Regions from separate parts of the Homo sapiens genome. Here region 2 is linked to region 1. A link means that fine-mapping ties the variant in region 1 to the expression of a gene that starts in the linked region. Tissue or cell type: whole blood. Region 1 holds a variant in brackets; the other region holds the start of a gene. All regions are shown on one strand. Distances are from middle to middle.

Region 1 (8,114 bases):
TTCACATAAGGTGAGTGGCTGCAGCCCATTTATACTTAGGCCACTTTGGTCATAGTGGATGACCAGGAAGAATCAGGGAAGAATCAGGGAAGAATCAGGAACCAAGAGGTAGGCATTGAGGGATAGGCTCAGGCCCCAATAAAATATCAGAAGAGGAACCAGGGACTTTGACACCACAAAACCCATACTATAAATACTGCAACAATTACCTGTTTCCAAACATCATTTCACCACATACACCTCTGTCCCAACTTATCAACATTAAAAGGGAAGAACTTCACTGAACCTCCTAATAAAGCAAGTCTTGATCCATTGTTCACAGTGACATATCTGGTAACTTAGTCCCTTTTTCTTATACGCATCCAAGGACAACATTTTGGCCTGGGACACTCACTCACAAAAGCATATCTCATTTTTTAAAATTGTCTGCATAAATGTGTAATGTTGTGTGTCATTTTTACTTTATAGGCCAAGCTATAACATCAGAAATGGTGAATGAATACAAGAAAATTCTTTTGCTGAAAGGATTTGAGCTCATGGATGATTATCATTTTACATCAATTAAGTCCTTACTGGCCTATGATTTAGGACTAACTACAAAAATGCAAGAGGAATACAACAGAATTAAGATTACAGATTTGATGGAAAAAAAGTTCCAAGGCGTTGCCTGTCTAGACAAACTAATAGAACTTGCCAAAGATATGCCATCACTTAAAAACCTTGTTAACAATCTTCGAAAAGAGAAGTCAAAAGGTAATAGAGAAAACCTTGCACATAGCTACTCTGCCTTGAGTCTCCCCAGTCTTCAGTAGAACCCCACCTTGGTCATAGCTGGTACATCCCTTTTCCAATTTATAACTCAGCAGTCATGGGGATGTTGGCACCTCAGAGACTGACCAGTTGGCAATTTAGAACATTCTGTTTCATATGAAAGAGATTGATATATTTAGAAGAATGTATTTGAGGTAAGGATAAAAAACCAAAGACAGGGATTTATGAGACGGTGAGTGTTTCAGTAAATCAAAAATGTCAGAAAATGAAAAAAAAAGCTACTTTAAAAAATGTGTTTTATTTGAAATATTTATATTTAACCAATTTATGCAGCAATAGTTCTATTAAGAGACGTGTAGAATTTTTCCACTTAATAAATCACTGTTCTTTTTTTAATTCAAAAGCCAATATTAGCACTTTGCCACATTACAATTCAGATCATATTTCCTTTCAGGTCATATTTCTGTCATTTGAACAGATATTGCACAGAACATGACCAGCCTGTCAGCATCATGAAAGCCTTAGATATTTAAAAGAAATGGTAGGAGAACAAGACTGAGAAAGGGTTGATTGAGGCACATGGAGTTCACAGGAAAGGAAGCATGTTCTCACTGCAAAGGGGAGGAGTGAGTAAAGCACTGAGGAGAATGAGACAGTGCCTATGCCTACCATGCTGCTGTTGGCCTCCTAGGAGCCAGGCTGGGTTAATGCAGTAGAGGTAACAGGCAAATCCGAACTCTCATGCAGGAGCTGACAGCAGGTAATATTGAAACTGCCTCAGCTGTCTTAGATAAGCTATTCCACTCTAGGCCTATTGTGCCCTTTTTCTTTTCTTTTGTCAGTTGCTAAGAAAATTAAAACACAAGAAAAAGCTCCAGTGAAAAAAATAAACCAGGAAGAAGTGGGTCTTGCGGCACCTGCACCCACCGCAAGAAACAAACTGACATCGGAAGCAAGAGGGAGGATTCCTGTAGCTCAGGTAAGCTTGAGAAAGAGGAGCAGGACTGAAGCCTCACAGAAGATACTCTGCTATGGCACGTGGCTCTTTACTAATATCTCAACACAGCTTAGATTTACCAAATTAGTAATTATGGATCTTCTTTGTGATGAGTAAAGAGTTAGGTATCGTAAAAATGTAATAAAAAATTTCTGTGACATAAATATATTATCATCTCCATTATAAAAATGGGGTAATAATCATATTGGATATACATCTTGCCCATCCTTACACAAATCTAGATTTTCTCATTCCAAGTCCAGTGCTCTTCTCATCACACCACAGTGGTGATAACAGTAATGCATCTGTTGAAATCATCCATCTCCTTTTTAGTGCAACAATCTATGCCCAATATTATCTATTGTCCATATCTTCAAGTGACAGATTGTAATTCCCTGGGGTTTCCAAGGACATCCCATCCAACATAAATAGAACTTACTATGTTGTAATGAAAAAATGAAAACTTGCTCTGCTTCTTTTGATACTAAACTCCATTAACAGGAAAATTAAACTACTTTCAGAAAAGAAAAACTCCAAACAAAGAAAAGACTGAAGCCAAAAGGAATAAGGTGTCCCAAGAGCAGAGTAAGCCCCCAGGTCCCTCAGGAGCCAGCACATCTGCAGCTGTGGATCATCCCCCACTACCCCAGACCTCATCATCAACTCCATCCAACACTTCGTTTACTCCGGTACACTCTTCCTGGTCCTCTTCTCCATTTTTTTTTAACCCAGTCACAGTGCATTCCACTGTTACTATTGTTACTCTCATGCATAACTCTTCATATTACTGATTTGCTGTGGGAAAACTGTTTTCCATATTATGATAACTTGTTTACATTGGTGAGAAGCCACATGCAAGTAAAGTCCAATTACCTACAGGTAATCACTGTGTGTAAAACACCAGGACAGACCACTAAGCATTTCTGGTCTGTGCAGGTAAGTAGCCTGGCTCCTAGTACCAGTACATACAAGCCCATGGCTCATCTTTGCTCCCCACACTTCCTATTACAGATCTGCCAACGTTCTCTTCAGAAAAGTATTCTGCTGCAACTCAAATAGGCCAGGACACTGTGGAGAGAGGACATACGAGATAAACAAACTTGTCCTTTTTCCATTGTTGTTAGCATTTTAGCCACTGTGAAATGCTGTGTATACACAGTCGAGGACATAGCTCTAACCAGAAATCCTCTACCTGAGACTACTTACATGCTAGCCAGGCCAAGTCTTTCCACTTGTAAAAGCACTGTTTCTTGGGAAGAAACAAACGAGTTTGGCCCTCAAAATGGCAGAGTACACTAGTGATCATTAGAATTTCTAATGAATGTTTGATCATTAGAACATCTAATGATGTTTGAGGCTTCTGGTGGGCATGGTTCTTCATTTTTAATGCTGTCCAAGTTGTTTTCACTTTGTTGATTGTCTTTGATAATTTCAGTAGGTAGAGGAGATATTTGGATTTGTTATTATATTCTAATCTTTCTTTAAAGTTTCTTCACAACAATGTTTTCATCATCTGCTACTCTAGATTGTTCATGCAGAAGATCATGCTTTGCTTCAGGAAGATTATTCTGAGTCAATGAGGGTGATTTAATTTCCAAGCCTGTTGTCTGTTACCTTAGGCTTTCAGTAGCTAAACTTTACCAGCTCATGTGCCTTTCCTTTCTGTTCAGTAATCCCTGTCTAGCCTAGCCCCCAGCTCCAAATATCTGTGAAAGTTGTTGGGTCGAAAGCTCTGCAGAGTCACTCGTGCAGAGTGACTTTGTATTCCTGCTCAAAGTTTTTGTT[GTTGT/G]TTGTTTGTTTGTTTGTTTGTTTGTTTGTTTTTGAGACGGAGTCTCGCTCTATCGCCCAGGCTGGAGTGCAGTGGTGCGATCTGGTCTCACTGCAAGCTCCGCCTCCCAGGTTCATGCCATTCTGCTGCCTCAGCCTCCCGAGTAGCTGGGACTACAGACGCCCGCTACAACGCCCGGCTAGTTTTTTTTGTATTTTTAGTAGAGATGGGGGTTTCACCATGTTAGCCAGGATGGTCTCGATCTTCTGACCTCGTGATCCACCCGCCTCGGCTTCCCAAAGTGCTAGGATTACAGGCGTGAGCCACCGCGCCCGGCCTCCTGCTCAAAGTTTTAAGTTTATTTTCTTGTGTCTGCCCAACACAGAATCAGGAAACCCAGGCCCAACGGCAGGTGGATGCAAGAAGAAATGTTCCCCAAAACGACCCAGTGACAGTGGTGGTACTGAAAGCAACAGCGCCATTTAAATACGAGTCCCCAGAAAATGGGAAAAGCACAATGTTTCATGCTACAGTGGCCAGTAAGACTCAATATTTCCATGTGAAAGTCTTCGACATCAACTTGAAAGAGAAATTTGTAAGGAAGAAGGTCATTACCATATCTGATTACTCTGAATGTAAAGGAGTAATGGAAATAAAGGAAGCATCATCTGTGTCTGACTTTAATCAAAATTTTGAGGTCCCAAACAGAATTATCGAAATAGCAAATAAAACTCCCAAGATCAGTCAACTTTACAAGCAAGCATCTGGAACAATGGTGTATGGGTTGTTTATGTTACAAAAGGTAAACCCTTAATTTTGTTTTAATTTTCTCTACCATTACCTGGAAATAAATGTCTTAATTTGCCAGACTTACTGTCTGAATATTGGAACACAAGAATTTATATTGACTAGAGATAGTGATGAAGTTGTCCCACAAAATAGGAAATAGGACTAAGTGACCTATTAACTTTCTTACGCCAAAATAAATGTAGGGACTTTGAAAAAAAGTTAGTAAGAAATATTGGCAGTAATGATCTGTTGTCAGCCACAATGAACTAGGACAATACAGGGTCCAAATCAACGGGAGCAAGCTAATAACATCATCTCTTTCAGCTCCATCCCAATGAGCACTGATAATTTTACTGTGAGTTTTGATAAATTTATTTTAAGTAATGAATTGTGCTACCAAGGTTGAATTCTGGTTGTGACATAATTTTGGAGTAATAAGTGGATTGGCTGGTATGCTCATAAATGCAAATACATTCAACAGCTATCCATACAATCTAAACATTTGTGCTTAGATCAGTTGCCCTTCTATCTTATTTATTTATTCATTTATTTATGAAGATAGCATTGAACAACTGAGAAATATTGAATTCCATGATACTTAAAGGATAAGGCAATCTCTTCATACTATTTACAAAAAAAAAATAATTCCAAGGCACAGAGTTTTATTGATATGTCCATGTCCAAATTCAAGATGCTAGTTAGGATAATGCATTCCATCCCTTTCTCCACTCTAAAACATTACACATTTCTATGAACTCAACTAACATTTTATATGATTGACTGCTTTATAACCCTACATACATGTCTTTCAATATAGCCCCTTAAATTTACCTCCACATTTTCTCACACTCTCTTTAAGAGATCTTGCTTATAAATGCAATTACAGAATTGATGAGTAATAGCTTAAGTGTGTGAAACACTACAGAGTATGAATGGAGGGAGTTAGGTCAATGGGGACAAGATATTGGAAAAGAATAAGTAATGAGGAAGGCTGAGAAAGAATGAATGATTGTGTTATAGAAGATTTTTCCTTTAAAATTTCTCATAATCTGAAGTAACTCAGGAGTGGAAAACCAAATATTGTATGTTCTCACTTGTAAGGAGGAGCTAAGCTATGAGTACACAAAGGCATACAGAGTGATCTAATAAACTTTCAAGACTCAGAAGCGGGAGGCTGGGAGGGAGGTGAGGGATACAAAACTATATATTGGGTACAATGTACACTACTTGGGTAATGGCTGCCCTAAAATCTCAGAATTCACCGCCATATAATTAATCCATGTAACCCAAAACCATTTGTACCCCAAAAGCTATTGAAATTTTTAAAAATTAAAATAATAATAAAGTGAAATTCCTCATAATCTACTGAATGAATAATTGTAGAAAGCATACATTTGTTTTTCCACAGGACCATGAGCCAAGAAGTTCTATAGGAATTTTTGATTCCTCTATATCTAGGTGCTTTATTTACTCTCAGCTGATCTGAAGGTGGTAGCAGGAGAAAAAGAGGGAAATATTTATTGTTGTATAATTGCAGAAAGAAAAATACCTTAAGCAGGAAAAAAAAATGCTGGATAATAAAAGATGGACCCTGTGAGATGGCAGGCCAAGCCACATGTATGATCTGTACCTGTCATTCCTGTCGTGCATATTGCATTAACTTTGTCATGAGACTCTTTCTCATCTATATGATACTAACAATCCTCTCAGAAACAGGATGTTAATCTTCTTTTGCAGAAAAGCGTACACAAGAAGAACACAATTTATGAAATACAGGATAATACAGGATCCATGGATGTAGTGGGGAGTGGAAAATGGCACAATATCAAGTGTGAGAAAGGAGATAAACTTCGACTCTTCTGCCTTCAACTGAGAACAGTTGACCGCAAGCTGAAACTGGTGTGTGGAAGTCACAGCTTCATCAAGGTGGGAACTGGATAGAGGAGAATGAGTTTGCTAAAGAGGCAAATAATTTTGCTTAGGCTTTGGGAACACCAGGTTCCTCATGTATTACTCAGAGAGTCCAGCGAGTGGAAGGAGAACCTAAACAATGCCCTTGCATTTGTAACTGGAAGATTTTCAGAAGGATATTAAGGTAAAGGCATTCATACAGCTCTAGAAAGGATACAATACTAGTGTTAATTGATTTAAAGATGTGTCTAGCGGCAGGGAACATAGGGCTCAAGAGCAAGGGTTCTGAATAAGACAGATCTGATTTGAATCCTGGATTTAAGAAGCACTAGTTGGCTGATATTGGGGAAACAGTTTCATTGGTCCTCTAAAATAATGGAAGTCTCCACTTCATTGGGATGGTTTAAACATTCAGACAATGTATACATATTAATTATCTCACAACCTGGCACATCATAATAAACTGATCTGTGGTAGATAGTTTTATTTTTAGGAAGGTAAAAATTGGAGGGACTTTTAGGCAAAGGAAATGATACATGAAAATTCCAAAAGTGTGACATAGCGTAATGAGTTCTGTACAACTGAAATTCAGTAGATGCAGAAGACTGTGGGACCCAAAGATTAAAAAAAAGGGACTACTGAGGCCCAAAGATGAAAAAGAAATAGAAGTGTGGCTTTTTCAAAAGTAAATTAATGGAAACTTTATTGTTGAAAATACATGAAAAATTGAAACAAAATTATGCAGAAGAATGCCTGATCACTTTGATATTTTAGCAAAAAATATTCCGGTGTCTATCTATGGAGTTGCATTACAGAGCAATTAGGCTTGGGGCAGAGATATCTATTAGAAGTTGTGTGCTGGATTCACTCATATCCTTACTGAAGAGAGCTTACTGTTGGAAATTCAGGAATTATATGCACTGCTTGCTAAACATGTGGTAGTTTGAAATCAGCCATGTGAAAATATGTATGCCACCAGACTCTGCAAATGTTACAAATCGAAACTTTTAAAAAAAAATGGGTAGTTGGTTAACCAGGATACCACAGAAGTTTATTTCAAAAATCCATTCAGGAAGGAAAAAGACAAACAGAGATTAGTTAATGGGGGGAAAATGAGTTTTTTGAAGGTAGATCTTCATAACTTTGTGACTAACGAGCTTTCATAGGGGATAAGGAGAATAATGTAGCCAATGGGAAGAAAAGATATGGCAGGTGAAAGGAGAACTATAAGCAGAGCTTCATTTCAATATCTAGGGTCTCATTATGTCTTTCTTATCTCTCTTTAAAGGTCATCAAGGCCAAGAAAAACAAGGAAGGACCAATGAATGTTAATTGAAATATGAAAGCTGAAATGCAACAAACAACTTCCGCTTAAAACAATTAAGTTGTTAATAACTGTGATTTTGTAAATTTCAGTAATTCATTTAAATGATGTTTCAGTAGATATATTCTAGCATATTAAGAGCTTTTATAACTGAGTTATAGATTAGTTTGCTTTCTGGAATAAAATTTTCTTCTTATACTCTTCCTTTTTTTTAGATATTACATTTTGCTTTTATGACATTCACGAGGCAAAAAATAAAATATCTTTTTTTGAAGGACATTATTTTCCCAAAGTCTTGTCTACGTTCTGTTAAGATCAATAGTGAGCTGCTTGAGGCTGAGTACTTTGTGCATTGTGAAGCACATTCTAGAGATGGGGAGAGACACATGGGGCCTTATCCACATTGGAGTCTATATTGTGATCTTCAGAGGATAAGTCCGCAGTAAAGGCTGTGACTAAATTTATGTAGCCCATGCTTAAATGAACAAATACTGTGGCCTAGGGAAGTAGCAGATCTAGAGGAAAGGATTCCTTTATGCAACTGTGTCCTCCAG
Region 2 (8,114 bases), 74 kb before region 1:
CAAATAAAATGTGGCACCTGATGTTAACAAACTAATATTGTAATACAGAGTATAGAGAAACAACTAACTATTATACAGCTCTTTCATGGAATACTCTATCAATGTAAAAACATGCTATTATTCTCATCTACTAAACAAACAAAAAAGCAAGAGCCTTAAATTCTTTCTCTTTACTCATCCCACAGCCACTGCTCTATTTCTTTCTATGTCCCTAAAAGAAAACTCTTCCAAGAGTCGGCTATACGCATTGCCTTTAATGCCTCTCTTTAAGTTTCTTCTTAAACCCACTCTAATTAGATTTATACTACCACCACTCCATTAAAACCTCCTTTCTCATAGACATTAATTATCTAAGATTTCCTGGATCCAATGGTCATTTCTCATTCCTCAGCTTACTTGGACTATCTGTTTCTTGACAGTATTGATTTATCCAGCCTGTTCACACACTTCCTTGACTTGATTCTCGGGGTACTATACTTTTGGTTACTTTCTATCTTATTAGTCATTCCTTCTCATTCTCCAACTTTAGTTTCTCCTCCATGCCCCATCCTTTTAATGTCACAGTGCCCATGGTCAGTGTTTAATCTTTTTTTTTTCTCTTCTATATAAACTCAACTCCTCTGCTCTATACCATCCAATACCAGAGCTTTAAACACTATAAATGTGTTGAAGACATCTAAATCCATATCTCAGGCGATATTTTTCTCTGCTACTCCAGACTCATATATTTCACTGCCTACTCACATCTCCTCTTGGGAGTCGAAGAGCCATCTCAAACTGAACTCCTGGGGTCTCTACCCCTAGTCTTCCCCATCACAAATGATGGCAATTGCAATCTTTCAACTGACAAGCTAAACTCCTGCAGTCATCCTTGTTTCTATCTTTCTCTCATATATCCAGGAACTGACTATGTTTGACCACCTCGGTCCAAGTCACTTTTATCTCTCCCCTCTTACTGTAATTGACTCCTAACAGATCTCCCTACTTGCATTTGTTCACTTGTAGCCTCATCTCAACACACCAGAGTGATCCTGTTAAATTCTAAATTAGGTTCTGCGTTTCCATCGATCAAATGTGTTCAGTGACATATCATTTAAAACCTTTGCTGTAGCTCTTTCCTTGTTCTAGAATCTCTTTCACCATTTGGATAGCTCTTTCATTTATTTCATCTTTGCTCAAATTTCACCAGCTCAACTACCTGGGCCACCCTATATAACTGCAGTGTGCCTCCATCCTTACATCCATATTCTGTACTGCTATTGCCTTTCTCTACTTAATTTTTAACTTTTTTTCCAGAGGACTTGTCATGTTCTAACCTGTAAAATGTACTTATTTCTTATTCCTATTGTTTATTGGTTCTCTCCTCTTTGATTATAAGTTCCTTAAGGGCAAAGATTTTTTTCTTTTCTATTTTGTTTACTGGTGTATGTCAAGTGCCTAGAGCCATGTCTGAAATATAGTTACAACTCAATAAATATTTATGTAATTAATATGCAAATCTATTAAGATAACTGCTAATTTGCATATGCAGTAGGAGTTACAAGCCATGGGCTGGATATGGAGATAAATCAGGAAAATTTCATAGAACACATAATTTATTATTATTATTATTATTGGAGACAGCATCTCACTCTATCACCCAGCCTGGAGTGCAGTGGCAGGATCTCTGCTCACTGTAGCCTTGACCTCCTGGGCTCAAGCAATCCTCCCACCTCCACCCCACAAGTAGCTGGGACTACAAACGTGCACCACCACGCCTGGCTAATTTTTGTGTTTTTGGTAGAGATGGGGTTTAGCCATATTGCCCAGGCTGGTCTTGAACTCCTGGGCTCAAGTGATCCACCTGCTTTGGCCTCTAAAAGTGCTGGGATTACAGGCATAAGTCACCATGCTTTGCCAGAAGATATAATTTTTATTTGAAGTGAAGAAACTGTCAGAATTTTTTAGATGGAAAAATGAAATAAAAAGTATTTGAAGCAAATGGAACTGCCTGTGCAAAGGCAGAGAGTTATGAAAGACACCGAGTCTTCTCCTTCTGCCCTCCGGTCTTCTTATCACTTCTTCCCTCTCCAGGATCCTGAAATTCATCCAAACTAACTTTGTTTACTCTGATTTTTCTTGGCATTTTTCTAAACCTAGGGAGCATGTCCATCCCATATACAAAAGCCTTTCTCAATCCAAGACTTAATATAGGATGTTTCTCTACTTAGATTCCAGAGAACTACTTCCGGGCCAAACTTTTATATGGGTGATTTTGCTTCAGAATAATTACTTTATTATCCAAAATTTCTTTGTCTTAGTTTTTCTCACCGCATATCCATGTCTATCCACTGCCCAATTCTGCCTTCTGTTTTCTTCAAGTCTTGAATGCATACCTGCCTTCTATAAAGGATTATCCCTAAATTTCTACTTCTTCTCAGACCCTTGTTTTCTAGATGTTCTATATTCCTTCCCTTCTAAATATAAATAAAAGGTTCTATTCTAGAGCTGCCTCTTTCCTTTTCTGGCCTCCAGTCCCACTCACAGATGAGTTGTCTAGACTGTGAGCCCTTAACTAAATTTTCAGATCTACATGGATGGCTGGTCAGAAGATTGAATATGAGAAGCCAGTATTTTGTCGTCTCCTTTCTCAGAAGGTAGAGTTTCCACATAACTCCAAAGACTTATTATCACACTATACATTGTATCATCACTCATTAATGACCTGCTGTTGTTCACTCCCTCCATACTCTGCCTAAGCAATCAAAGTCATCAGGATCCGATCAAGTATTATTATTTTCCACGGAAAACTAGCACCCCCAACTCCCTCATCTTCCAAGTTCACAGTTCTCAGAGGTTTGGACCATTTCCTTCTCTTTTTCACACCCCCTTTAAGATGGCAAAAAATACTGATGATTTTCCCTTTTTAAAAAATTTATTTTATTATTTCTAATTATGATTGTAACTGCTAGTACTGATAAACCTTAATTTAGTGTTGAGAGAAGCTTTAGGAACTATCACTTTCCAGTGGCCCCCATAATTTTGGATTTCACTGGATTGTTGGAATATCTGAAATGTATTATATATTTCCAACAGCTCATAAAAAGAAAAAACCTTTAAATATCACAAAAAGGAAGGCTAAAATAGAAGGATAAATCATGTGTATCAAACTTCATATTTGTACTTATGTTTCTAATTTTGATTCAGCCCAGCAAAAACTCATATCTTCTCACTCATAAAGGAATCCATATCGCCACAAATGGGCATCAACCCTCTGCCTGGATTTACAGCACTGGAAGCTTCCTGACCCATAAGACAGTTCTCTCCATTTTTGAAATGTTTTAGTTTACAACTGTCCTTTCCAATGACCAGAAACCTGGCTTTCACCATTATTCTTTGTTTTGCTCTGTGAAACAACCCTATTGCTCTGGTCCAGAGTCATGTGTTCAAACATTCTTTTCATCACCATTATAGCAATTTCAATGTTTGCCAAGTGGGTTTCTGTATTTAGCCCAGACTCCTTTGTTTGCAGTGTACCCTCACTAAAAATATGCTTTATCTTTTGTCAATCTGAAGACACTTGAATCATTTTCTAGCTCAAGTCTGTCATTTTTTTCCCTGACCATCTAAGTTAAATACTGTTCTTTCACACTTCTAAATTCTCAGTAGTACTTTCTCACTGTCCCTCCAATTATATCCTGTAATGCACTGCAATTATTTTCCAGGCATATGTCTTATCACTCCAAGGCAACTCTCTGTGAGCTTTTTGAAATTAATGAGGAAACTTCATACCATGTCCTACCTCCTAGAGTACTTAGCACAATGCCTGATATATCCGAGTTATGGTGGGTAATGAAAAAGAGGGCAATTGAGATGACTTGTGCAGCTCTTTAGCTCATCAGTTACTCATCTACTCCTATTCCTGATATTGGAATCAGGGCTCTCATAAAACCTACCACATATACAAATTTACATTTATCTTACTTAGGTCCATTGAAATCATAGTTTATTCCCCTAATTCTAGAAAGCTTTTAGAATATATGCCTTGCATTCTTTTCTTCAGATACCACAGCTGCATTATTCATAGTTCATAATTGTTTAGGCATAGGGCCAAAGATCTGGGGGTAAGAAGGGAGATGCAATTTTAGAGATTATCACACTCAACGTCTTCATTTAAAAAACGAAACAAACAAACAAACAACAAAAACTGGGATCCAGAAAGGGGAGAAGACTTGTTCCAGTTTACACAGTTAGTTAAAAATATAGCCAATTTACTAATTTTGAAGCCAGACTCTTCACTATAGCATTTGAAAAGCAGAATATCTGTTTTTAAAAATAGTTTCTGTGTTTCAATTATGTGTTTTATGGACCCTGATTATTCAAAAACCTCTCCATATTTCTGAATCCTCTAGGTCTCTTAGTGATCAGACTAAGAAGGAATGTGAAGATGAAAATGCCTGCTTGATAAAGTCTTACCTAGAGATTGTTGGTGGGGAGTGCTCTGCTAGAGCTTGACTCTGGAAGCCCAGCCACTGCTCGGAGTCCGAAGTTTGAAGAGAACTTCCTGTATACTTCCTATGTCTCATTTGCAGTATTATACCCAGCCATTCCCGGGGCCTGGAGGGGTTGAAGTTTATCACTTTGATGGAACCTGTGGGAATAAGTTAAACCATAAAACAAATTCTTCTCCCATAAAACCTGGATTCTTGATAGGGACCTCATAGAGGCAGAAGCCCATGGGCCTTCTGAGCAGACCTCCTGGGGTCACTAAAGTGCTCTCTCAGGAAGGGAACTGACATACAGCAAGTTCATTAGCCAGTAGTCCTTCATTACCTATTAGTTACTACAACAATAACTACCAGTCCAAGTTGAGATAGAACATGTCTCAAGGCAATTACTTCCTTTAGTAAATAACAATAACTGGTGTGAAAACTAGGTTCAAATGGGTTCCTGTACTGCATGACTTGGGAGTAAGCATACAACTTTCAATTATGATAGGATCTTTATAAAATTTGACTGACCTTCTTTGACCCTGAAAGGGTGAGGACAGGGAGACACTGGGGACATAAATATCATCAAGACCGACTCCTAATCTTGTCTGTTGCTCATATTTATAGCCGTTATATGTTGTCTTACACACTGCAGTCTCCTCTCTACTCTAGTGTTATCTGCTCCGTAAAGAGTGCTGCTTCAGAATCTTGGATACAATCCCAGCCATTCTTCCAAATACTTATGAGACATTAGGCACCTCACTGAGCCATGGTTGGCAATATTGCCAGAAGGGTGGATTTTGAATACTCTTGCCACAAAATAAAAATGATAAGTACTATATGTGAGGTGATAAATATGTTAATTAGCCTAATTTGATCATTCTACTCTGCATACATGTATCAAAACATCACATATATAATTATTTGTCAGATAAAAAATTTAAAAAGTATAAGGAAGATTTACTTTCCTCAGATAAAATTAATAATCAAATGTGATAATGTAAAAAAAAGTACTTACAAACTATAATATGAACTATGAGAAGAATTAAATAATTTTTGTCACTTTCTCCATCCCACCCACACTTTCAATATTCTTCATCAAAGTTTATATTTTTCTATCTCCTAATTTATTTCTGGAAGATTTTTTTTTTTCAAACTGAGTTGCCAGTATTTAATATTTTGTTTGTGGTAAATAGATATTTAACTAATAACTTAATTTTTGAGTCAAAGTATTATTTTGTTTTTTGACTAGTATACGTAGAGTTTAAGTAATAATTTTATTTACTTAATGACTAGAGGTTTATTCAGGTTTTCTAAATCCCTATAAGGCAATTAAGAGTTAAATACCCACTACCTTTTAAATTAAATTTTCCACATCTGTCAGTTTCATTTCAATTACTTCTTTTCTGTGAACTAGAATATCCTCTATTCCTAAAATATATCCATCAATTCTGCTACCCTCCCCTCCAAATGATATTCTGTCTCTATATGTGTTGGGGTAAATGTTTAACAACTGACTCCTCTAACAAAGATTCTCAATTTCATTGAACTCTAGTTCTCTTTTTGACTAAACCTCAGCCTTGGCTTACAAAATCTATAGACTGTCAGCAAAAATGATTTCATCCACCCTCCCCATCTTCCCTCCCCCACCACATGTATTAAAAGACTTAAACAAACACTAACATAGTTTCTAAGAACTCAAGGCCATAGTCTATCCTAGCACCTCTTTAAGTGCCTGCCTGAGAAAATTCAAGGCTACCAAAATAATTTATGTCTATGTGTGTGTATGTGTGTGTGTTTTTGTGTGTGTATATATATTTGTATATTTGTATATTACTGATTAAATCTGTCCTTACCACTTTAGTGCCTGCATTGTTTAGCTTTGAGATAGCCTGCCATTTTTAAAAAGCTCCTGATTTATAACATTTGCTGATTGGCATAGTGCTAATACTCCCACTGTATCTGATTCCAAGCTATTGGTTCCACAGAATTTCTAATAAGTTGTCAATCATTTCCCAAAAACTATGAGCAGACTTCAGCACGTAACTGCCTGTCTTTTTTATGGTATCACATTTCTTGAAACTGCAGCTCCATTGACTTCCTCAGTACTCACTAACCTCTCTCCCTCTTGCAATGTCTTTTACCGCCACTGTTTACAGAAAATGACTGTATATAGCAAAAATAGTAGCAATGTACTGTGTGTTTATTTTACAAAAATATATGATAAAATAGTGCGGATGACAGCAGGGAGGATTTGGAGAAAAGGACATACATATATATGCAAAGGTTCTCTACCTAGTTCATGAACCTGCTGAGATAAAACACACAACAAATCAAGAAAAGCAGATTTGTTACTCATAGACATGCAGCAATGAGAAACAGAAGCCTGGGGTTCATCACAAGCCCATTCCCACAGCTCAGGAAAGCTGCCCAGGCTGAATGAACTCTCACTACACATGCCCCACATTGTACCACAGCGGAGGGACCCAAAAAGCACTAGTCTTTGGAAAACAGTTAGACAGCTAATTATAAACATACATTTATCGTGTGACCTAGCAATCCTATACTTATGCATTTTCCCAAATGACATGAAAATTTATGTTTACGCATAACCATATCATGTTAAAAATGAATATTATCTAGGGATAGCTTACATGCCCACCAAAGTTTGTGAGTGAAAAAAAAAAATACAGATCCAGAAAATTAACCTAGTATGATGCACAGTAGCTAAGCAAGGACTAGTTACCAGTATTATCCAAGGAAATTCAAAAGGCAGATGTGAGACAAGTTGAGGTGGGATGTGCAGAAAACTGGTGAGTACAAATAGGGAAGACCGATGCATTCTATAGAACAGTGGGTTTCAGTAATGATTAGAATCATTATGTCATTGTTAAAGGCCAAATATATTATTGACCAGGTGTGGGTAAAATTCATCACATGTTTCATTCATTACGATTGCATTGAATACTCATCCTATTTAGGTGCTGTGTTAGTTTCTGGACACACAACAAATAAAAAATCTGAAATAATTTGAGACCAAATCTAGTTTATAGATACTTGTAGGAAAGAATGACAAACTATATCTATGTATATATACATAAATGTCCACAAACACATAAATTGCCATACATATTTTGAAGAGAAGCAAAACATACTTCAGAGATAAAAATGAGTGACATAAATTAGACTGAGTGTTCAGAAGTCCTCTCAAAGCTAGCATCACTGGAAATTGATATTTGAACAGAAAATCACACAATTAGGAGGAGTGAACCAAATGAAATGTTGGGGAAAAAACGGAGTGAAGATCCTGAAGCCAGAAAAATCCATAATGTATTTGAAGACCTGAAAGAGTAATCATGTAGCTAGGAAAGAGGGAGCTGAGGGAGTAGAGGTATGAATCTATGTTGAAGAGGAAGGCAGGGAAGAATTCCGTTTATAGCCTTATAAAGTATGGTGAGGCTTTGAATTTTATCTTAAGGGCAATTGAGAATTTCTCATGTTTTTATAAAATGGTATATACAATTCAGATTTCAAATACATTACTTTATATTTTATGTGGAAAATATATTAGAATAGAATGAGAGTAGGAGAAAGGAGCATGGGTAGAATATTATTACATTAATCCAATTGAGAGATGTTGGTAAT

The links. PIP is the estimated chance that this variant, and not a neighbour inherited with it, causes the effect.
Region 2: it holds the start of OR6N1, and the variant in region 1 is fine-mapped to the expression of OR6N1 in whole blood (INTERVAL, PIP above 0.99).

What each region holds. Positions count from the first base shown.
Region 1 is chr1:158,841,666-158,849,779 of GRCh38, forward strand. It overlaps MNDA (myeloid cell nuclear differentiation antigen), which reads left to right. Exons shown (of 7, transcript NM_002432.3): 2 at 469-753; 3 at 1,614-1,750; 4 at 2,290-2,457; 5 at 3,922-4,338; 6 at 6,063-6,251; 7 at 7,525-7,837. The coding sequence starts at 489. The coding sequence ends at 7,572. Among named protein-coding and RNA genes, the nearest start is that of MNDA, 14 kb to the left of the region's middle. The variant GTTGT/G (reference allele first, on the strand shown) is at 3,554.
Region 2 is chr1:158,767,566-158,775,679 of GRCh38, forward strand. OR6N1 (olfactory receptor family 6 subfamily N member 1) reads right to left here and starts at 4,630. Exons shown (of 2, transcript NM_001005185.2): 1 at 4,456-4,630. It overlaps OR6N2 (olfactory receptor family 6 subfamily N member 2), which reads right to left. Exons shown (of 2, transcript NM_001005278.2): 2 at 6,657-8,114.